3 separate regions of the Homo sapiens genome follow, and all the other regions are linked to region 1. Evidence: fine-mapped expression QTL. A gene starts in region 1. Each other region holds a variant in brackets. All regions are shown on one strand. Distances are from middle to middle.

Region 1 (8,188 bases):
TTGGACTCTGGGAGCAAATATTCTGCAGTAGGGAATACTGCTCCAGCTGCCAAAGCAGAAATGGCTTCTGCAGTGGTCCAGCAGACTCTATGGCATCAGAAGTCTCAGTGATGGGGGAAAAAATGCTGTGTGGTGTTTGAGGAAGATCCTGTGGGAGAACCACAATATAGGACCTCAGGGTTCTGGAGCAAGGCCATGCCATCTGCAGCAGAGAATTGTGTGTCTTTTAAAGACCAATTTGTATATTACTGGTTCCTGGTAAATGTAGAATAATGAATCACAGGACACTACATCACCATACGGCCAGAACTGCCCATTATGATCTGGATCCAAATGGACCCGCAAAGTATAAGGACAAGCAGGCCTAGGAAAAATGTATTGTAAGATAGAAGTGTGACATCCAGAGCCAAACACAAACAGGACCAGAGGTATGAGCAATGTGCATAAACAGGTAGCAGGTAGCCCAGACTGCCCCTGTCCCCAGCATCCAAACAGTTGCACTCATGGCCCTTCCTTAGCTCACACCTATAGCTCCCTGGGGAATTTGGTATGACCAGCTGAAGGAGGAGAGAAAAGGTCACATTTTGTTTACAGATGGGTTGGCTTGGTATATAGGCAAGTTAAAAATAGACAGAGGCAGCTTTACAGCCACACTTTGGAGTGGTTTTGAAAGACAGTGGTGAGAGAAAGTCCTCCCAAAGGGCAGAGCTGCAGGGGGTACACCTGGTCATCCACTTCGTGTGGAAAGAGAGGTGGCCTGAGGCTAGACTTATATAGAATCACAGGCAATAGTGATTTCCTGATCATCTTTTGTTCCTGAAATGAAAAATATTCAAAGATCAAGAGCAAAAAGTTCTGGGAGGCAAACAGCAACTTTAGCCTGAGAAGTGAATGGTAACCAAGGGTTCAGACCACTCCTGAAAGAGACCGTGGGTCATGTCATCAGGTACGTCACTGAGATCAGCAGAGGTGGGAGGTCGGAGTGAAGAGAATCTAGAATGGATATGTGTACATACAGGACTGGGCATGAAGTATACAAATCTTTGTATCATGGCCAGGCACGGTGGCTCACGCCTGTAATCCCAGCACTTTGGGAGGCCGAGGCAGGTAGATCACAAGGTCAGGAGATCAAGACCATCCTGGCTAACACAGTGAAACCTCATCTCTACTAAAAATACAAAACATTAGCCGGGCGTCATGGCGGGCGCCTGTAGTCCCAGCTACTCAGGAGGCTGAGGCAGGAGAATGGCATGAACCCGGGAGTCGGAGCTTGCAGTGAGCCGAGATCACGCCACTGCACTCTAACCTGGGTGACAGAGCGAGACACTGTCTCAGAAAAAAAAAAAAAAAAGAGAGAGAGAAAAAAGAAAAAGGAAAAAAAATCTTTGTATCACATGTTAATGCCTACTAGAAAGCATCCACCAAAGAAAAGGCACTAAATAACCAACAAAATGGCTCAACCAGTTTGGCTCAACAAAACGATTGAGCCAAAATGACTGAGTCTCAGTCATCAGCCACCCCACTGCTGGCACGATGGGCACAAGAATGAAGTGACCGTGGTAACAGAGATAGAGGCCACCCATGAGGCCAATAGCACAGACCCCGAGGCTTATCTAGCTCCCATCATTAACAAATGCCCAACCTGACAGCAGCTGACACTAATACTGTCCCCACAAGATGGCACAATTCCTCAAGGAGACCAACTAGTCACTTAGTGGCAAATTAATTACATCTGATTCTTTCACTCTTTGGAGGGTCAGTGGTCTATTCTTACAGGAATAGACATATTTGAGGTATGAGTGTGCCTTTCTTGCCTGCAGGGCCTCCATTAGCACCATAATCCAGAGAATTATAGAGTGCTTAATTATCTAGCAAAGATCACATCCTGCCAGACAAGGGTGCCCACTTTACAGCAAAGCAGGCCCAGGAGTGGGCCTGTGATCATGCAATCCCCTGGTCATATCACATACCACACCACTCAGAAGCTGGTGGACTTACAGAATGTTATAATGGGCTGCTGAGGACAGAGCTGAGGTGCCAGTTAAATGCAAAACTTTGTGAGAATGGGGTGCTATCCTCCAGGAAGCAGTATATACATTCAATCAAAGACTTTCATATAGCATTATGTTCCCAATAGGAAGAATACCTGGGTCTGGGAACCAAGGAATAAAGGCAAGAATTACCACACTTACCATCACCACCATTGACCAACTGGGGGCTTTGTGCATCTTGTCTCCACAGTTGTAGACTCTGCAGGGTTCGTTATCTTGGTCTCCAAAGGACTATACTTTCACCAGGGGCAAGCAAGAGTCCCATGGAATTATAAACCAGAGCTGTTGCCTGGGGTACGCTGGGCTCTTTGTGTCTAGGAACTAGCAAGAAAGAGTCAGAATCCACAAGGGTAATTGGCCCTGATCATTCCGAGGAAGTAGGGCTGCTATTACTATAATGTGGGCAGGGAGGAAGATGTGTAGAACCCACATAACCTACTGGGGTACCTCTTATTTTTTGCTTTTTTTGGTTTCTTTTTTAAGAGAGGGTCTCTCTTTGTCACTTAGGCTAGAGTGCAGTGGTGCAATCATGGCTAACTGCAGCCTCAACCTCTCCCTGTGTTGCCCAGGCTCATCTCAAACTCCTGGCCTCAAGCAATCCTCCTGCCTTGACCTCCCAAAGTGCTGGGATTACAGGAGTGAGCCACCATGTCCAGCCTGCCTCTTGTGACAGTAGGGATAAAAATGGCAACTTTTGCCTGAGAAACAAAAGGTAACCAGGGGCTCAGACCACTCCTGAAAGAGAGTGTGGGACATGTCATCCAGTAAGTCACCGAGACCAGCAGAGGTGGGAGGTCAAGGTAAAGGGAATCTAAAATGGATAGGAAGGGGGCCAAGGGTAAGTTTCAACTACAGCCCCAAGATCAACTGCAAGGGTAGGAGCTGTAGTTTTTCCCATTAACTTCCTCTTCTAAGTTTTCTCTCAAGAATAGGGACCCACTGAAATGTTTAAGGAGCCACTCCTGGAGTGTATATGGAACATAGATCTAAGAGGTGCAAGTATGTACTCTGAAAGACACAGAGATGAGTTTCCCAGAACCCTTGTCAAGGAAGGTCTTGCTACCTGGCTGTAAAGAGTGTAGTCAGAAGATACCTCCTCCTGATAGCACATAACTGTCAGATCCTTCTGTGTCTGCCTTAGCTACAGAAAACTGTCTCACCTAAGTGTATGCCCTTCCTGGGCAATATATAGTAGGGGACCAAGCAAGGCAGAATATAATGGCCCAGCCATTTATACTGAAATCAGGGGCACTGTGACAGGTCACACTCACTCCAGTTCAACTTCTACCTCTGTTCACCCCTGCTTCCCCTCCCTTCCTTGTATGGATATCGATCCCTAACAAACACTTGTGCCCCACACTCACTGTCTCAAGTCTGCTTCTGATGAACCCAACTGTGTCAGCATTTCTGCTATCACAGATTTATTTCATAAATAGATAAACCCTGCATGATAGTTGGTACTGGCACAAGAATACTTGTTTTTAAAATTTCTTGTACTCCAAAAATACAATTTGATCACAGCACAACAAATGCATGGTAAAGAAGCTGGTTTCTAGAGTTTTAAATGTATTTTGCAGCCTTCACTATATGGTCTACTTTTATTCTTACTGTCTCCTAGTCTTCAACCTTAAGTTTAAAAAATTATATTTTTACTGTACAAAAAAAAAACCAAAAAATTGCTTCCAATATAATTTCTGTCTTCCCTGGAATACAGAATTGAGTCATTGCAATTAACAGGGTGGGAGGAAATCAGTCTCTTCTGGTGGAAACAAGTTCCTATTGGTCACCTCCCTCAGCTCTTTAATGGGAAGGCCATTTTTTGGTTTCAGTTACGGTAAATCTCTCTGGATTTCAGCCAAATTCTTTCAGAGTTCAAAAGTACAAAGCTCTTTAGGAGGTTTGTTCTTTTGAAACATTTTTTCAGAGGTTAAAAATTAAATTTCAAAAGAATACCTGGAGTGGAAAAGAGTTCTCAGCAGAGACAAAGACCCCGAACACCTCCAACATGAAGCTTCTTCATGTTTTCCTGTTATTTCTGTGCTTCCACTTAAGGTTTTGCAAGGTAAGTAATTCAACCTTTATGCAAACAATTTTAATTGATAATTTAAAGGTTGTAAAAACATAGAAAATAATCTTAAATATATAATTTTGATTTAAATATTACATAGTTCAGTTACAACAATGCCACTCTATAGTCAGCAACAAATGTTTTATGTTAATATCTTGATAAAAGTGATTTTTTAAAAATAGTTCTTTTTATGTGCTTATATATGCAGAGGCATTGAACTGAACAAGAATTTTACTAATACAAGGCTGTGATTTACTGTAATTGTAGTAAATCAAAAATATTTACCAGGCTCCTCCTGTGTGTAAGGTACAGTGCTACGAAGACAGTGAGACTGATCTCTTCCTTCAACAGCCTCTTAGTACGCTCTATAGTTATAGAAAGGGGAAATAATAAGCAAATTTGAAACATCTGAAAACACAAAAGTGCAAGTTACAAGACAGTATATATTTAATTGTCAAAAGTGATACAAATATGTGGTAAAGGACTTCAATGAGAGGACAAATCACTTCATGCTGAGAGGTCATGAAGAGATTATAGATCAAGTAGGATTTGAGCTGAACGTTTAATTCTGTATTACATGTGATCAGTGGTGAGAAAGAGGAGTGATTTCCAGCTTCTTTAGCCAGGAAAAGCAGCAAGTGCTACCATAGGAAGGCAGCAATGCACTAGGCCCCTCCAAATAAATGAATCCATTTGATCAGAATGAAGGCTTTGTGGGCTACAAAGGAACTCGAAACTGAAATGACATATTTTATTGAAGTTAGAGTGTCATCTATTAAGGTGAAAAATGTTTAAAATATTTTGGATACTTATTGATGATTGCCAACTTTGGTGGCAATCCAAAACTATCTTGTCTTAGTGCCAGCTTGTAGAAGAAAATATTTAAAGAAAACTACTTAAGAAAACACACTTTAAGATTCTTGTAACTTCTAAAATAGTTGCCATCATTGCAATGTTTATAATAGAGAATAAATGGAAATAACTAAATGCTTATTAATAAGACACTGGTTAAATTATTGTATATCCAAAATTGAACTATTACATAGCCATTGAAATGACATATTTATCTAAATAAAAAGTCCTTACTACAATTTTATTTTTATTGAAGAAAAACACACACACACATATGTATGTGTGTTTATATGCATATATATAAATGCATACTTATACCTACTTATATATATGACTAAAAGATCTTACAGTGTATGTATCAAACAGTTAATAGTTGCTATCATTGGCTAATAAGATTACTGGTGATTCTATTTTCTGTTTTCGGTTTTACTGAACCTACTCAGACAAGGAAACTAGGGGATTCAGAAAAGATGGAAAAGAAACCCATAGCACAGTGGGAGTGGCTGCTGGGGCCTTCTAATGGGGGGAATAACCAGAGGATGTTCAACAACAAGGAAGCTGACTAGGTGTGGGGGTTCACGCATGTAATCCCAGTACTTTGGGAGGCTGAGGCAAGAGGATTGCTTGAGCCCAGGAGTTTGAGGCTGCGGGGAGCTCTGATCATGCCACTGTATTCCAGCCTGGGTGACACAGCAAGATCCTGTCTCAAAAAAAAAAAAAAAAAAAAAAAAAAAACAGAGAAGCCAAATATTTCAGTCAACATGATTACCTACCATAATTGTGCTGTGACGTAATCACCAACTGATACCCTAAATTTTATTTTACCCTAAAATTTTATTACAAACTCAGGCACATATGGGTGGCATTTTAGAGAGAAAGAACTGGGGTAATGTTAAGCAGAATGACAACATCCTGGAAACAAGGGTGGCACACAGGAGGGTGTGCAGTGCAAGTGATGGCAGCGGAAATGGCAGAGTAGGCAGATCCACCAAAACCAAAAACCAAAAATCCATTTCTACAGAAACCAAAGGGAAGCTGTCAGAACCAACTTTATTTAGAACTCTGGAAAACAGTCAAAGGTTTATAGCACCTAAGAAAATGTTGAATGCAGGAACAGGCAACTAAAAATGGTATGAAAGCTTAGTAGCATTTTGCGTGTCTGTCCTTTGTGTCCTTGCCCCATACCCTCCCTAATTTGGCAGTGGTCTTGAAGGATATCTGAGTACATAAAATAGCCTTAACACAATAACAACAAATTTTGGTTTATTAAAACAAGTTCACACATTGTCATTAAAAAGACATTTTGAAATTCACTGTATTCTCATTACCTTAGTTTGCAAATGTTAAAGCAATTTTCTTCTAAAAATACAAACTGTTTCTCTTACTATGCAGAATATTATCCTAATCACTTACCACACTTCTATCACCCTATCACTTATAATACTGTTGTAAACCAACCACTAAGTGGCCTTTCCACTTACAATTTCTTCATGTATCTTAGATTTCAGTTTCTTAATCTTCCATGGGAAAGTATATAAATCTGTCTATCTAATATGGAAGAAATTCTCCTAACTCTGGTGCAGCAAACACTGACCATGTACGTTTCTCACTCAGGGAGGGACCCGGTTCCCTAGCACTGGAAAGAACAGAGAAGACCTTATTCAAAAATAATGTGTTTGTCTTTTCTATCCTAAGGCCTTCCTGTAGGACAGACCCCAGGCACTTGTCTTGGTTTCACCTAGCTCAGAACTCAGAGCAGAAAAGCATTAATATTACAAAGCACAGGCATTGCAAGATTAATGAGCAATCTCAGCTGTCTGGGGCAAAGGATTACAGTGGAGGCACACAACAGAGCACCAAAGCATGGGGAAAAACTAAGATCCTATGGAAAATTAGGGCATTCAAAAGTGCCTGTGTGTATTGGGGAGTTTAGGAAGCCCCATACATGCTCAGGGCAGGATACATGCTCAGAAAGACCTCAGAAGACTCTGAGCCTGCACCTCTGGTGGTTGTCTAAGTTCAGTGCAAGTATGAAGTGAAGGCTAAGGTAGAGTTGCAAATGGCCTGGATGAGTGAGTGCCCAGGACAGAACCAATCTGCAAAGACTGGGAGAGATTTTGAGATTTTGATTTGTTTTTCTGGGTTTCTTTTTCTTCTCTCTCTCTCTCTCCCTCCTCTTGCATTGAAGGAAATCTCTGTCTAAATACTAGCTGAATATAAGTCAAAGGAACAGACTTCAAAGACCACATGTGATAAAGAATAGACTTGCCAAAAGTAGTTTAGAAAAGTCATCAAACAAACACCAAGCAACCAAAGCAAACCCCAAGCAACCAAAACAAACCCCAAGCAGAAGGAAGAGTCTGATTTCAAGAGTTACTGTAAGAGTCAAAGTGTCAACCAAAAATTTTCAACCAAAAATTATGATGCATGCAAAGATATGAGAAAGTATGGACCATTTACAGAAGAAATGAACATAATCTGTTCCAGAAGAACCACAAACTTTGGACTCACTAAACAAAGACTTAATGGTCTTTTTAAAAAAAAAAAACACTTTATTGAGTTATGATTGACATATAATAAACTCTACATATTTAGTGTACATAACTTGATGAGTTTGAGTTTGGAGATTAGTATATGTCTGTGAAAATATCACAACATATGCCATAAACGTATTCACCACTTCTAAAAGTTTCCTCTCACTCTCTTTATTTATTATTTTGTGTGTGCATGTAACAACTCTTAACAAAGAAATTGTGCTCTTAGCAAATTTTTAAGTATACAATACAGTATTATGAACAATAGGCACTATTCTGTAGCATAGATCTCTAAGAATTATACATCTTGACCTTTGACTAACACTTCCCTGTTTCCCCCTCACCCAGTCCTTGGCAACCACCATCCCACTCTCTGGTTCCATGAGTTTGACTATCTTAGATTCCTAATATAAGTTGTATTATGTGGTATTTATCCTCCTGTCCCTGCCTTGTTTCACTTAGATTAATGTCCTCTAGGTTCATCCATATTGTCACAAATGGCAGGATTTCCTTCTTTTTTAAGGCCAAATAATATTTCATTGCATGTATATACCACATTTTCTTTATCAATTCTTCCACAACTGTAGAAGAATTTCCCTTTCTGCATATCCTCAGCTACATTTGTTACCTTTGGTTATTTTGACAATAACCATCCTAACTGGTGTGTGATTTTGATTTAAATT
Region 2 (8,188 bases), 39 kb after region 1:
TAGCCAGTTTTCCCAGCACCATTTATCAAATAGGGAATCCTTTCCCCATTTCTTGTTTTTGTCAAGTTTGTCAAAGATCAGATGGTTGTAGATATGCGGCATTATTTCTGATTCTTGAAGCCACCAGACAACACCATCCTCATCTGTACTGTGGGCTGTATCTGTTTTGCTCTTTTCCTTCACTTACTCATCTTCAAACAGGAGTCTTTAATTTGTTGCTAAGTTAATGTTTATTTTGCATTTTACAGGTCACTTATACATCTCAAGAGGATCTGGTGGAGAAAAAGTGCTTAGCAAAAAAATATACTCACCTCTCCTGCGATAAAGTCTTCTGCCAGCCATGGCAGAGATGCATTGAGGGCACCTGTGTTTGTAAACTACCGTATCAGTGCCCAAAGAATGGCACTGCAGTGTGTGCAACTAACAGGAGAAGCTTCCCAACATACTGTCAACAAAAGAGTTTGGAATGTCTTCATCCAGGGACAAAGTTTTTAAATAACGGAACATGCACAGCCGAAGGTAGCAAGAGACTAGTTTTCAAGTCATTCTATGATATAAAAGGGTATTTGTATGCCATACTTTCTATCAGAAAATAATTCTCTTGTGTATGTTATGATGACAACTCAAAATTTTTTTCTAGACTCTCAATAATAATTGGAGTAATCACTAAACAAATCAGGGGTTGCCAGAATCCAGCCAGCCTTTGAGTGCAGAGCGTGGGATGCTGAGTCCAGACCTTCCTTCAGTGCCGGTGCCACTCCCTGCTGCCCAGCCCTTTAGAATTGTCCCCACCCTCACTTCTACTTGGTTAAAGGGATTATTCCCAGGGCCATTGAGTTGGTTCAGAACCCAGTGAAAAGTCTTCCAGTAAGGTTGGTACTCACATGTAGTCTAGTCAGGCCTCAGGTCCTCCTGTGGCCCCAGTAATTTCTGTTTTTGTTTGTTTTGTTTTTTTGAGACGGAGTCTGGCTCTGTTGCCCAGGCTGGAGTGCAGTGGTGTGATCTTGGCTCATTCCAACCTCTGCCTCCCGGGTTCATGCCATTCTCCTGCCTCAGCCTCCTGAGTAGCTGGGACTACAGGTGCCTGCCACCATGCCCAGCTAATTTTTTGTGTTTTTAGTAGAGATGGAGTTTCACCGTGTTAGCCAGGATGGTCTCGATCTCCTGACCTTGTGATCCGCCCGCCTCGGCCTCCCAAAGTGCTGGGATTACAGGCATGAGCCACCATGCGTGGCCTACCCCAATAATTTCTTTCAACAGCCGTCCCCCCCAACCCTCTCCCCCAGCCCTGACCCCATTGTTCCTAAATATCCAAGGGCCGCTTGAGCCACTGCTGACCTGGGACATACTCCAACCTAGCAAACCCAGACGTCAGACCCAGAGATCTTGTCTACAGTCCCTTCCAGGTGCTTCATGTGCTGAGGAGGCTGGGGCCCTAGCATTCAGACTAGTGGGTAGTTATGATTAGGGATTTCGCTGTCAGTCCAATTGAGTTTCAAGTCCCTCCAAACCCCACCTTGGTTGTTGACAAGCTGGACCTCACTGGACCCCAGTTCCCTCATCTGTAAAATGTGAAGTTTCTAAGTTGTACAATTCTTGTGAAAATTAAATAAAACAATGTATGCAGGGCTCTTCACACAGTGCTTGGCATGCAGAAAGTGCTTGTTACATTTTATGTCTGACAGCAAAGCTTAGGTTCATTGTCTTCTGATAGCAAGTTATTACAGACACTTCATTACCTAAGGAATGCTTAAAACATTCTTTTTAAAGGCACCATGACATATATCAGCTCACAGCAGCCTGTATGTTTTTGAGATGCTGAGTTAAGATGTTGAGATACTGTGGAAAAGGAGGGGAAAAGCTCCCTGTTTGAGCTCATCTATCATCCCTGTTGGAAAGGCAGAAGGCAATAGTGGAGGTTATTTCATCAGTGTCAGACTTTTCTTCTCTTGAGGCATTAAATGCCTTAAATACACGAGAATACATAAACCCTTTCTACATTTTACATTTTCACGGTTGGGCTTACTTTTGAGAGCATGGACTTTGGAGTGAGATCAACTGAGCAAGTTCCAAATCCTGGCTTCATCACTTGGGCCAGGAACTTAACTTCCCCTAGAGGTTCCTTGTGTAAAAATGGGAATAAATAGGCTTTATCCTCATAGGGTTGATGTGAGTATTTAATGATCCTCTATACAGCTGAATAGCACTGCCGCTGACACATAATAAATACTCGTAAAATGATTGCTTACTATTACTTGTTAAAATCGTCATGATGTTCAAAGCTCACTTGACATTAAGTACATTATTATTTTTAAAGACTTTTAATTAAGAGAAAAAAGTGAATGGCTACATATTGCACATTATTTTGTTTTTTTATTTTAGGAAAGTTTAGTGTTTCCTTGAAGCATGGAAATACAGATTCAGAGGGAATAGTTGAAGTAAAACTTGTGGACCAAGATAAGACAATGTTCATATGCAAAAGCAGCTGGAGCATGAGGGAAGCCAACGTGGCCTGCCTTGACCTTGGGTTTCAACAGTGAGCGCTTGTATCAGTGGATTTTCTCATGGCTGATTTAATTGTTCTGTTTGCTTTTTGATTACCTAACCTTTCTGTGTATTAATTTCCATATGTGTAACCTAAGAAAATTAACTATGTGCATCATAGCATTGTTATGAGGATGATATGCATTCATGTTTACCCAACACTTGGAACCCTGCTGACAACAAAGCATGGATAATAAGTCTGTTGAAGTATCTGGATGTGAATCCTTTAGTGATTCTGAGAGTCACAAACACATTCATTTCTGTCTGTCTCCTACTCGTCTACAATTATGTACACTTTTTCACACTTAGTATAGTTTATATACTGTGTGTGAGTATAGTTTATAGTTATATAATATAGTTTATACTATAAACTATACAGTGAGTATAAACTATACAGTTATAGTATAAACTATATAGTTAGGATAAATTATAGTTTATAGTTTTATAGTATAGTTTACTATAATTATAGTATATAAGTATATATACTATGAGTATAGTGTACAAACTATAATTTATATATAGCTTATATACTATAATTATAGTATATATACTTATATATAAGTGATATTTTATTTATTGTTTGGTTCAGAATATCTTCTAACTTTCAATATAATTTCTTCTTTGCCCCATATGTAATTTAGAAGTTTTCTTTATTATAATATTAGTTTTAATTAATACGTTAGTTTGCTTTTGGTTAACTTTGTGTTATTGATTTTCTTATTCTGTGTGGTTAGAGAATATCCCTGTATGATAACAATTTTTTCAAATATTTGTTGAGACTTGCTTTGTGGCTGAGTATTTTTCAAATGCTCCACGTGCAGGGTTCTAGATAATAGATATGTTACTCATTATTAATAGAATTAGCTGCTCTGTTTAGATCTTTCTCTATTTCTTTACTTTCAGTCTTCCTATATCTTTAGATTTTAAGCATGTTCCTTATAAACAGCACATATCTAGATTTGTTTTAATTCAATATTACAATCACTGTTAACTAAAGAGTTTAGTCCATTTACCTTATTATACTTACTTACATTGTTGAATTTATTTTTCCTCTTGTTTTTAGGCTTATTATTTACCCTGCTTTTTGTGTGCTTTTGTCCTTTTTCCTTTTATAATTTCTACTAAATTAAAGATTTTTAAAAATCTTTCCTCTTTTCCACCTCTAGTTGGTTTGAAAATTATGCATTATATTTCTACTTCTTTAGTTACCTTTGAACTTATACCATAAATCATTGATTTAGGAAGTCCTCACCTTCAGTAATAATAGAAAAAAATGTAATTAACCCATCAAGTTTCTAATATTTAGTTCCACCTTATTTTTCTATATCCCAGAAGTTAATCACTATGATGATATAATAAGCCATTATCACTACTATTAAGGCAATGCTTACTCAGATTTACTTCATGTTTACCAACTTCTTGGTTTGTTCTTTCTTGTATCTCACCCCTTCTTTCTGAATTCAATTTTCTTCTTCTTAAACCACATCTGCTAGTAGTTCATTAGTGAGAGTCTCTTATATTGTTAAATTAAGCCATAGGCTATTTCTGAGTTTCAGCAGTTTGTTACCTACAACTTATGGTTCAACCTACTGGTAGATTCTCTCAGTATTTTATTTCTCAGTATTTTGCTCTTATATTTTGCATAAGCTCATGAACAGACATCTCTAATTTTAACCAGTGCAGATTTCCCTTACTTCCTTAAGAACTCATTGAGGAAGAAGATGGCATTTTATATAGTATTTTTAGATATTTTTAGGTTGGTACGTTTTTCAGATTATTAACCTATAAGATTGCCTCAAATGGCTCTTGTTTGTTCTCATGGCACAGCCTCATGATCTGAAATAATTACAAATCTTGGCTTCACCTTGTTTTATTTTTGCTTTTTATCCTAGTTAGTCTAATATTTATATTGTCATTACTGTTCTATTTTTGTTTCCATTTACCTGATGCATCTTTGCTCAATTTTTTATTTTTAACCTATTTTCCCCATTTACTTCTAGAGAGAAGCAAGGAACAATTGAATGTCCTAG[A/C]AGAATAGTTCACTGTAAATCATCATCTCTAGGATAATACGTCACTGAGGAAGTCTCTTCTCACAAATTCTGAGCAAATTGAGAAGTCCAAGCAATGGCACACAGATGCCAAAATATCACCTTAATACTGTCAAGGCTGAAGTGAAGATGTAGCTTACTGTAAAAGCAAAATTGACCTACAGGAATTAAACTAACCTAACCTTCCAAGTCTTAGGCAATAATTGAACCAACCAGCTAAAGTTTACAGCATGGGGCAGGCAGAGAGATTCCCAAAAGGAAAAGATGGAAATTTTTTTTTTTTTTTTTTTTAGACAGAGTCTCACTCTGTTGCCCAGGCTGGAGTGCAGTGGCACGATCTCAGCTCATTGCAACCTCCACCTCCTGGGTTCAAGTGATTCTCCTGCCTCAGCCTCCCGAATAGCTGAGACTACAGGTGTAGGCCACCACACCCAGCTAATTTTTGTATTTTTGGTAGAGATAGGATTTTCACCATATTGGCCAGGCTGGTCTCGAACTCTTGACCTCAGGTAATCCACCCTCCTTGGCCTCCCAAAGTGCTGGGATTACAGGCGTGAGCCACCACCCCCAGCCAAGTTTTAGTTAATCTTTACAAAACCCAGTGAGGTAGTTATATTCCCTTTTATAGATGAAGGTACTGAGGCTCAGAGTTTCGGTATCTTGCCCAAGCTGTAACTCCTATATAGAGAATGAGAGGACATTACTCTAGTTTCTTACCTGCTACAGTAGGGTTATAAATGCAAAGTACTAATTATTCTACCATAATGTTTCCTTTATTCTATTTGCAGAGGTGCTGATACTCAAAGAAGGTTTAAGTTGTCTGATCTCTCTATAAATTCCACTGAATGTCTACATGTGCATTGCCGAGGATTAGAGACCAGTTTGGCTGAATGTACTTTTACTAAGAGAAGAACTATGGGTTACCAGGATTTCGCTGATGTGGTTTGTTATACACAGAAAGCAGGTTGGTGGAGTATTTGCCTGTTATTTTCCCTTCCTTGAAGGTTGTTTATTTTACACCAAGCCTATAGTAAACAAATGATTGATGCCTCGTTGCCAGTCACAGAGGCAATAATATAGATTCTGTCAAGTTTTGGGCTTTAGAGTCTAAATTGGTACCTTTCCCCTATTGTACCATTTTGCCATTCAAACATTGCCTCTCTACAGGTTCACATATGGGAAGCAAAGTTGCCTGACTCCCCTTGCTTCATTTGAACATCTGGATTAAAGTTACTGTAGCAAACACAAGTCAATCAAACATAAGAAGAAAGCTCAGCATCTCCTTTAAGAGGGCCAGCATATATGAATTTATTTAAAACCTTTAAGTGACCACATTGGTGCCTCAGTTTTCAGGCATTCATTGAGACTTTTCTCCTCCTTCCTGACACTGGAATATTTTAGTCATACATGTAGTTTTAAAGACCAAACCTATACCCACTCCTTTTCAGTGCTAAAAAAAAGTACCACCAAAATGTAAACAAATGGCACTAACCAAGCAAGTCTTGGGAGTAGGGGTGAGGATGAGTATAGCAGCATGAAAGAAATGGGTGGAAACCAGTGTTTGTCAATGTCAGCACGTACTCTTGATTCCTCCCCATCTCAGCAAATATAGACTTTCACAATTAATACTGACTTTCAGAGATAATAGAAGAGCCTCCATAAGCCAGGTTTGACCTTTATTTTCTGTATGAGTCATATGTACTATGTTGATAATACCAATACGTTTTATACATTTTTTTGAAGTTTAACTTTCTCTTAATGACTCCATTATCCCAAAAATCTGATAAGGATGTCATGCCACCACTCCATAAATAAATTTCACAAAGATAATTCCTGCTTTACAGATTCTCCAATGGATGACTTCTTTCAGTGTGTGAATGGGAAATACATTTCTCAGATGAAAGCCTGTGATGGTATCAATGATTGTGGAGACCAAAGTGATGAACTGTGTTGTAAAGGTAGACATAAATCTAGCCTCTAAATCCTCTAAATTCATTTTTCTGACTAAAAGAGGAAAAGCAACTTTACTATTGAATTTTATATTGTACCTCATTCAACTTTAAGGAATGAAAAAAACCTCTCCTGCTTATGTTTGCACAGCATGCCAAGGCAAAGGCTTCCATTGCAAATCGGGTGTTTGCATTCCAAGCCAGTATCAATGCAATGGTGAGGTGGACTGCATTACAGGGGAAGATGAAGTTGGCTGTGCAGGTAATTGAAAGACTTGGGGTGACTTTTTTTCATTATTGAATCCAGGGATTCTGAAACTTTTCTTTAGGTAAAGTATAATCTTAAGGGGAACATAGATGGGTGTAGCAGTAAGAACACTGAGTGGGCATTTGCAGAACTATGGAATGTTCATCTCCTCATATTTTCATCCGCTAAATATCTACTTGTTATTTCAGAACTTTCTATTAAAAGACGGTCTCACTGCACATACAAAAAATAGACCATTAGAACCAATCCTTAAGTACCCATTTTCCACCTGCAAGTTATTGATAGTTTGCCAATCTTGCTTATCTCTCTTCCAGTTTGTTTGTTTGTATGTTTGTTGGAGTATTTTATTTTATTTACTATTACTTTTTTTGTGATGAAGTCTTGCTCTGTTGCCCAGGCTGGAGTGCTGTGGCACAATCTTGGCTCATTGCAACCTCAACCTCCTGAGTTCAAGTGATTCTCCTGCCTCAGCCTCCCAAGTAGCTGGGATTACAGGCACCTGCCACCATGCCTGGCTAATTTTTGTATTTTAGTAGAGACAGGGTTTCACCATGTTGGCCAGGCTGGTCTCAAACTCCTGACCTCAGATGATCTTGGCCTCCCAAAGTGCTGGGGTTACAGGCATAAGCCACCACACCTGGCCTGTTGCAGTATTTTAAAGTAAATTTTAGATATCATATCACATCATTTATATGCATCTCCAGTGATAAAAACACTATATATATATAAAACCATTCATTCTCTCATTTGTATATCTAAAATCTATGTTAGATATAATAATTCACTATAATAGTAATTCACTAACGTCATTTAATAACAGCCATGTTCAAATTTTCTCAACTATCTCAAAAATGTCTTTTTTGAATGAATAGATTCAAATCAGGATCTAAAAGAATCTGAATGTTCTGTTTGGTTATTACGTTTTTAAAGTCTTCTTTATTCATCAAGAGTTATCTTCCCCACCTCCCTACCCCAATTTTTTTCATACTATTATTATTTTTTTTTTTTTTAGAGAAACTGAGTCGTTTGCCTATAGTATACGTCTATTCTAGATTTAGAGAGACTTGATTATAACCAAGGTTTTGAGCTTCGAGTCAATGACAAATGAACACTTTTTTTTAAGAGCAAGGTTTAATATTTTAGGCAAGAATTCTTTTTATTTTCTTTTTTTGAGACAGAGTCTTGCTTTATTGCCTAGGCTAGAGTGCAGTGGCACAATGTAGGCTCACTGCAACCTCTGCCTCCTGGGTTCAAGGGATTCTCCCACCTCAGCCTCCTGAGTAGCTGGGATTATAGGCATGTGCCATCACGCTTGGCTAATTTTTCTGTTTTTAGAAGAGACAGAGTTTCGCCACATTGGCCAGGCTCGTCTCGAACTC
Region 3 (8,188 bases), 60 kb after region 1:
GATGCCCACAACCCTCCTTCTCACTCCCCTCCTCCCTCTTTCCCTATTCCCCAGCACCTACCCTCTCTACAAAGAAAAAAAGAACATAAGGAATTCATTTTTTGAACTTCTAAGAAGACTTGTGGTGAACACTTCATACGAATAAAAGATGTGGACACTCAGAGACAAATTCTTAGAAAGATCTGCTGAATTAGAGATTAGATTAGAATTAAACTAGTCAACACCTTTCCCTTCATCTTGAAGATTTAACCTTGGGCTGGGCATAGTAGCTCATGTCTCTAATCCTAGCACTTTGGGAGGCCGAGGCAGGTGATCACTTGAGCCCAGGAGTTTGAGACACTGTCTCTACCAAAAATTTAGAAATTAGCTGGATGTGATGGTGTGTACCTGTAGTCCCAGCTCCTGGAGGTTGAGGGGGGCTGAAGTGGGAGGATCACTTGAGCCCGGGAGGTTGAGGTTGCAGTGAGCCATGATTGTGCTACTGCAGTCTAGCCTGAGTGACAGAGCGAGACTCTGTCTCAAAACAACCACAAGCATAACAGAAAAAAAGGAAGATTTAACCTTAAAATTTAGCTTCCTTTCAACATCTTAAATTCTCTTTGATAGCAGAAACTCTAAGTACCTTCATTGCATTGGTCTTTTAGACTCATATTCCAACACATTCATTATAATTGCCACATTGGAAGGTGTAAAATATATGTAGAAATTAATCTGGATTTGTGGTATGTCTGAATACCTAAAACTTCTAAAACACCAAATTGTATTAGGAATTAATTCATCAAGAGAGTATTGTGTCCTTATACTTGTTCTGTTTTTTTAAATCTTTTATTATGTGCATTTACAAGTATACACAAAAATAGAGATTAAAGTATAATAAACCCTTACTTATCCATCATCCAATTTTCACAGTTATCAGCATTCTGTCATTCTTGTTGTATCTCCCCATATTAATTGGGGTCTCAATGGAGCAATTAGGAAGATTTATTTATAAAAGGGTTCATTACAAAGATATACGTAGGGGGTTGGGGAATCACAGGGGCTACGCAGGTACCCAGGACTAGAGGTACCAGAGCTGTCTTAACTCCTGGATCTGAAAGCGGAAGAGTAGGAGAAGTTACTAGATGGAGAAAAAGTCTCAGGTAGAGCAGGCTGCCTTGAGAGAAGCAAGGATCTTGAGCTGAAGGGTATAGCCAGTCCCAATCTCACTAGCCTACCTCTTTCCTTCCCTCCCTCCTGCTAGGGTCCTCTTTGTCTAAAACCACCTGGGAACCAGAGGCCACAGGTCAGGCTCTTAGGGCAGGATGCACGGCATTGAAGGGTGGAGAATGGTCTGAGGCACATTCAGGAGCTATTCAACATATTCCCCCACATATTTTTCCTGGAGTATATTAAACCATATCCCAGATGTCATATAATTTCACCCATGAATACTCCAGTATATATCTTCACCAGATAAGGACACAACACCATTTTCATACCCAATAAAATAAAGCCCATGTTTAATATTCCTCATTTATTTTTAAAAATATTTTTATAATCAGGTTATTTGAATCAAGATCCAAACAAAGTCCACACATTGCATTTGGTGGTTATTTTTCTTAAATGTTTTAATCTAGAATAGTTACCCCTTCCTTTTATTTAAAATTTAATCATTAAAGAGAATGGGTAATTCTTATTTTGGAATTCCCATACCTTGAATTTGGCTAATCACATTCTTTATCTGGATTTTTTTTTTTGAGACAGGGTCTTGCTCTGTTGTCCAGGCTAAACTGCAGTGGCACAAACCTAGCTCACTGCAACCTTGAGCTCTGGGGCTCAAGCGATCCTCCCACCTCAACCACCAAAGCAGCTGGGACCACCATGCCTGGCTAATTTTTGTATTTTTTGTAGAGATGGGATTTTGCCATGTTGCCCAGGATGGTCTCAAACTCCTGAGCTCAAGTGATCCTCCCACCCTGGCCTCCCAAAGTCCTGGGATGAGCCACTGTGCCCAGCCTGATCTAGCATTTAACATGTTCCCTTATTCCATGTACTTCATATAAACTGATAGTTAGATATGTCCTTAATCAATGATCAAAGGTTTAACACATTTATTAATAATGGTTTAACACATTTATTGAGGATTTACTATGTCTGCAAGATAGCAATGCTAAAGTGCTAGGATTTCACTGATGGAAAATATGGACCCAGTCAACAAACAAGGGGATGAATAAGTTCCATGGCTGAAAGATGAAGTCCAGCTCTCAAGGTGTTTACTGACCACCTTAAAGTCTAGTAGTTAAAATTCTGCCCTTTCGCTGCCTCAGCTACCGTCGGAGAGCTGCCTCAAGAAGCTTACAAGAGTGCCAAGGCACAAACTATCTCCTGGGCCATTAAGAATTGCTCACAGTTTTAAAGGCTTTTCCCAAATTAGAGGAAATAAGAAATTACTATTTTTAAAAAAGCTCTTGTTCTAAGGAAGGCAGGTGTCTTGAGACTAACTTGAAGTAGAGCTTAAAGGAAAAAAAAAATAAACTCCTTCCTGGCTGGGCACGATGGCTCATGCCTGTAATCCCAGCACTTTGGGAGGCTGAGTGGGGCAGATCACTTGAGGAAGAAAATCTTAAATCCCCTTTTAAATAACTTCAAATCACTTAGGAGATGGATTTTTCTTCTCAGACACACAAAAACACACAAACATTGATAACTTCGTATGTATTTCCTTTATTTGAAGTTCTTATATTAAAACATTGTTTTTGCTTTAACAAACATTCTCAAGGAAATAAGGGACTGTGAGAAGATAGGAGGTATTTATGTGAAAAGACCTTATCACTGATTCCTATCCAATTGCCTGACTGAGTTCTGCAACCAAAAGGGAAAGATTTATCTCATTCAACTTAAGGTACCAGCTCTTTATTAAATGAATGTGACTTCAGACCATATGTTCAATAGTCCCCCTTGACTATCCATCCAATTTTAGAAATAGACATATGATATGATTAAACACGCTAAGGAAGAGTTCTCAAAAATTTATATATATTGAAAACTATACACCCTTTCATAATCCCAATGGTTTAAGTTATGAGAGTATGTATTTAGATTTCTCATTTGTGACTTCTAAATGTTTGCTTTCTCACTTTGTTTAGATAACGAAAGAGTCTTTTCACTTCAGTGGGGTGAAGTTAAACTAATAAGCAACTGCTCTAAGTTTTACGGAAATCGTTTCTATGAAAAAGAAATGGAATGTGCAGGTAAGTGCCAAGTGGTTTATCCAAGATGTCAAGATGTATGTATTTCCCCTATCAAACATCTCCTCCCACCACATCAGCCCCCATGCTTTGGGCCCTAATTCCCTCCATTTGGCCTTCTGGCTGTAGCACTCTCAAACTCTTTCAGTCCCTTCCCTGTAGCTCAGGTTTCTTCCTCTAATACTATGAGGAAAAATCCTCCTTAAGCGATTCTATAGCAGCACAGCAAGGTGACTAAGAGCACGGCCTCTGGAACCAGACCTAGATTTATATCCCAGCTTTTACTAATTGCTAGTCATGTGACCTTGAGCAGGTTTCTTCATTTGTAAAATTGAAGATCATAGATAAGGCATCTGAGATGCAGAGCAGTTACATAATTTGTCCAAAGTCTTACAGACAAGAGGTGGTACACCCAGGATCAAAACTAAATTACTTTTAAATACAAATTCAAGTTATCTCATCTCAAATGAGATGAGATTTACTTCCATTTGGAAGTAAATTTTTCCCTCCATGGAAATCACAGCGCATTTCTTACGCCACGGACTCCTTTGATAACATGGTTAAGCTAATTCTACTGCCCAATACAACAATAGCAGCTCCTACTTTTGGAGGTGATACAGAGGCAGGCAAAGTACCAGCCAGTGTAGTGCATTTAGGTGCTTTATTGAAACCATTTCTAAATGGTGTATTACTGAAAAGGCAGTTATTGACATCCTATAACTTACTGGTTACAGTGATTTAAAAATCTCAGAAAATCATGAGTAAGAAGAAAGTGTCCTCCCATCTTGAAATGGAGTTCAGGATTACAGTGGACAAAATAGGTGAATAGCACAAAATCTCCCAAAAGGGAGTATCATGGTCAAGAGGACAAGCTCTGAGGTGTGGTTGCCTGGGTTCAAGTCCAGGCCCTGTCGTTTGTTAGCTGTGTGACCTTAGACAAGTTAAACTCCGTGTCATAGTTGTCTTATGTATAAAATAGGGGCAATAATGATATTTGCCTCATAGGGTTGTGGTAAGAATGAAGACAATGAATGACTAATAAATATTTAGCACTCAGTAAGCACTAGGCAGTCCCATCATTTTCCTACTCAGCATTTGATGCAACTTTCAGGTTGCAATCTCATCTCAGTACTCAGTCGTATAAAGTAGAGAACACAGGAAGAACATGCTGAATTGGGGGAATAAATAGAAGACTCGTAAAGAATTTTCCAAGCTGCATCTCTGCAACTCTGCAAGCCCAGCCAGGGACTCTAAGGAGAGCCCATGCTATTGCTGTCAGGAAACTGTAAAAAAGCCAAAGTTGTTAAATGCCATGGAGGAGGCATGGCAGCCTTGAAAAATGGAAGGAAATGTGTGATTTTCTCTTTCACATTTCTTTCTTAGGTACATATGATGGTTCCATCGATGCCTGTAAAGGGGACTCTGGAGGCCCCTTAGTCTGTATGGATGCCAACAATGTGACTTATGTCTGGGGTGTTGTGAGTTGGGGGGAAAACTGTGGAAAACCAGAGTTCCCAGGTGTTTACACCAAAGTGGCCAATTATTTTGACTGGATTAGCTACCATGTAGGAAGGCCTTTTATTTCTCAGTACAATGTATAAAATTGTGATCTCTCTCTTCATTCTATTCTTTTTCTCTCAAGAGTTCCATTTAATGGAAATAAAACGGTATAATTAATAATTCTCTAGGGGGGAAAAATGAAGCAAATCTCACTGGATATTTTTAAAGGTCTCCACAGAGTTTATGCCATATTGGAATTTTGTTGTATAATTCTCAAATA[A/T]ATATTTTGGTGAAGCATACAAGTTTTATTTATCAGAAAATTTTATTAAATTATCTCAATGCGGGAGTGATTTATTGACTGAAGTTACAACTAATTGAATAATGTTGGACTTACATAAGGTTGGGTTCAAATCCCAGCTCTATCACCTACTATGCCCTGGACAATTTATTGTCTTCTTTGTGTCTCCTTTTCCACCTATAAAATGGAAACTGGAATTCTGTGAAAATGAAACTACATACTTACATAAATGTTTGGCATAGTACCTGTCACAGGGTAATAACTGACTTCACAGCTCTTGTCCCATTTCCCTGCTTCCTCTTTATTTCTTTCTCATCTTTTCTCTCTTTCCTTCTTTCTTTCTCTCTTTCTCTCTCTTTCTTTCTTTTTCTCTTTTCTTTCTTCTCTTTCTCTCTTTCTTTTTTTGAGGCAAAGTCTCCCTCTGTTGCCCTGGATGGACTGCAGAAGTGCCATCATAGCTCACTGCAGCCTTGAACTCCTGGGCTCAAGCAATCATGCCACCCCAGTCTCCCGAGTAGCTGGGATTACAGGTGCACACTACCATGCCTAGCTAATTTTAAATTTTTGTAGAGAGGCATCTTGCTTTGATGCCCAGGCTGGTCTTGAACTCCTAGGCTCAAGGGATCCTCCCACCTTGGCCTCCCAAAGTGCTGGGATAACATGCGTGAGCCACCACACCAGGCCCCTGCTTCTTTAAGTATTAACATTTCTTGAAAAATTAGCCTTTGCTCCCCCATTTCACAAGCATTCCTTGACCCTCTCTCTAAACCTATCCACAGATAATTCAATACAACCACCTACCTCCATGGTGTCAGACCTCACAGTCACTTCTGTTCTCATCGCAGCAGCATTAGCCCCTCAGGGCATCACACTCCTCCCTCACTGCTGTTCTCAGCCTCTTCCTTCTGGTTGCTTCTCTCACTTTGCCTTTCCCTGGTAATCTCATCTAGACTACGTTTTAAATCCTGCCTACAGTCCGGTGACTCACAAATCTGGATCTTCAGCTCTGACCTTTCCTAGAACCTCAGATTAGTATATGCCACTGAACACTAGTATATACCATTGCCATGTGAATATCTAGTAACATTTCAAAAGAAAAGTGGTCAACCCAAACTCAACAGTTGCACTTTCTTAACCTACAGAAAATAGCACCCCCACCCGACCCCAAGGCTATTGTAGGTGCCCAGTCTCCCTCTGTCACACCACCTACTTTAATCTCAGCATAGTACTTTTCTTCCCCCAGTGTATTCTGTTTTGATTGGGTTGTCTACCTCTTCTCAACACTGTCTCCTCCAACTACAACATAAGACACATGACAAGAGAGACCTCATTTGTCTTCCTTCTGGCTACATCCCTACCACTTGCCTCATAGAGGCTGCTCAGTGAATAAACATTAGCTACTCTTTTTTTTTTTTTTAAGCACAGCTATCTTTATCCTGAAGACAGACATATATGTTTCACATAAATATTCCCTTTATTATTTTATTTAGGGCCAGTCTTGGATAGATCCCTACTGATTTAATAATATAAATACCCATTTTTACATATATTCCAAAATCAGTTACTGCCCAGATTTTCTTTTAAAAATTGTGGTAAAATATGTATAACATAAAAGTAACAATTTTAACTATTTGTAAGTGTAAAGTTGAGTGACATTAAATACATGCCCATTGTTGTACAATCATTATCACCATCCATCTGCAGAAAATTTTCATCTCCCCAAATTGAAACTTCATATCTATTAAACAATAACTCACCACTCCTCCCTCCCATGCTGCCCAGATTTTTCATCCATTAAATTCAGGAAAGTATTTGGTTATTTATTGCTGGGAAGTTCCCCTTCCAGTCTCTCATGCTGTTGCCGTCAGACAGGATTGGACCAGAGTTATCACGAAGGCTTATTCACTCATGTGTTTGGTGCCTGGGCTGGGCGGACTTAGACAGCTGGGGCTTCTCAGATATGTCTCTCTGCACTCTCCCCATGGGCTCTTAACATGGCAGGGCCGGGGGCACCAGACTTCCTACATAGCAGCCGATGAGCCTCCCAAGAGAAACTGCAGAACCTGCATGGCCTTCTCTAACCCAGCTTTGGAAGTCCCTTAGCATCACAAAGACCTGCCCAGGCTCAAAGGAAAGGAAATAACCCATCTCTTGATGGCGGCAGGGAGGAGGTGTATCAAAGAATTTATGGACATATTTGAAAACCACCTTGTCCTGACTCAGCAATCCGGGAGCAACGCAGCACCTTAGAATATGTCTGTGTATGAGATAAAAAGAGAAAAGTGGCTGGGCGCAGTGGATCATACCTGTAATCTCAGCACTTTGGGAGACCAAAGTTGGTGGATCATTTGAGGTCAGAAGTTTGAGACCAGCCTGGGCAACATAGCAAGACCCCATCTCTATCACACACAAAAAAAGCTGGGAGTGGTGGTGCACATCTGCAGCCCCTGCTACTTGGAAGGCTGAGGTGGGAGGATCATTTGAGCCCAGGAGGTTGAGGATGCAGTGAGCTGTGATTGCAGCACTGCACTCCAGCCTGGGTGACAGATCAAGACCTCGTCTTAAAAAAAAAAAAAAAAAAAAGAAAAGTACTCCAGTGCTACAAGGTGGGAAACCCAGCATATAGGGCATCCTCAGCCAATCTAGGAAGGGGGCCCCCAAAAGGGCCAAGCCAGTCTGCACAGTGACCTAGCATCTGGCAGCTTCACAGAAAAGTAGACCAGGGTCAAGCCTTGAAGGGTGAAAGTCAGCCCTCTGAAGCGACTCTATGTGACAGAGACCAGGAACAGCAGGAGTGAGATGACCTGACTCCAAGCTTCTCCTAGTTTAGAGGTCTGTCTCAGCGCTCCTAATTCCAGACTACAGAAGCCAATCTAACTGGTTTAATGAAAAAATAGATTTATTCAAAGATATTATGCAGTTCACAGAATTTCCAAAAGAGCCAGAGAATTGGAGTCTACACATCTGGAAATAACGCTCACAGACCACACTGCAGGACTGCTCCATCAGAGACTACCATGGCCACTAGCATGGGTCCCAGTCTCCACGTACAGCTTGTACTGCAGAGCCTGGGCACTGGACATTGCTGCTTCTGTGAGCTCGCCTGAAGGTGGCCAGGGACACAACTCATTGGATGTGGAGCTCTGCCATCGTCTTATATTTA

Alleles and levels. Alleles are on the strand shown, and positions count from the first base shown. SD is a standard deviation of normalised expression in the study named. Not every link is listed here.
For the expression in subcutaneous fat of the gene that starts at base 4,029 in region 1, T is the low allele of the variant in region 3 and A is the other (large effect, 1.2 SD a copy in FUSION).

The links.
Region 2: its variant is fine-mapped to the expression of CFI in subcutaneous fat (GTEx, PIP above 0.99). The same link has a PIP of 0.9 or more in sun-exposed skin, thyroid and tibial nerve.
Region 3: its variant is fine-mapped to the expression of CFI in subcutaneous fat (FUSION, PIP 0.95).

The regions. Positions count from the first base shown.
Region 1 is chr4:109,797,840-109,806,027 of GRCh38, reverse strand. CFI (complement factor I) reads left to right here and starts at 4,029. Exons shown (of 13, transcript NM_000204.5): 1 at 4,029-4,113. The coding sequence starts at 4,057. LOC124900757 (a long non-coding RNA gene) reads right to left here and starts at 2,356. Exons shown (of 2, transcript XR_007058226.1): 1 at 2,193-2,356.
Region 2 is chr4:109,758,885-109,767,072 of GRCh38, reverse strand. CFI (complement factor I) reads left to right here. Exons shown (of 13, transcript NM_000204.5): 2 at 249-519; 3 at 2,383-2,536; 4 at 5,381-5,556; 5 at 6,437-6,550; 6 at 6,693-6,803. Among named protein-coding and RNA genes, the nearest start is that of PLA2G12A, 33 kb to the right of the region's middle. The variant A/C (reference allele first, on the strand shown) is at 4,575.
Region 3 is chr4:109,737,533-109,745,720 of GRCh38, reverse strand. It overlaps CFI (complement factor I), which reads left to right. Exons shown (of 13, transcript NM_000204.5): 12 at 3,126-3,230; 13 at 4,611-5,026. The coding sequence ends at 4,828. Among named protein-coding and RNA genes, the nearest start is that of PLA2G12A, 12 kb to the right of the region's middle. The variant A/T (reference allele first, on the strand shown) is at 5,008.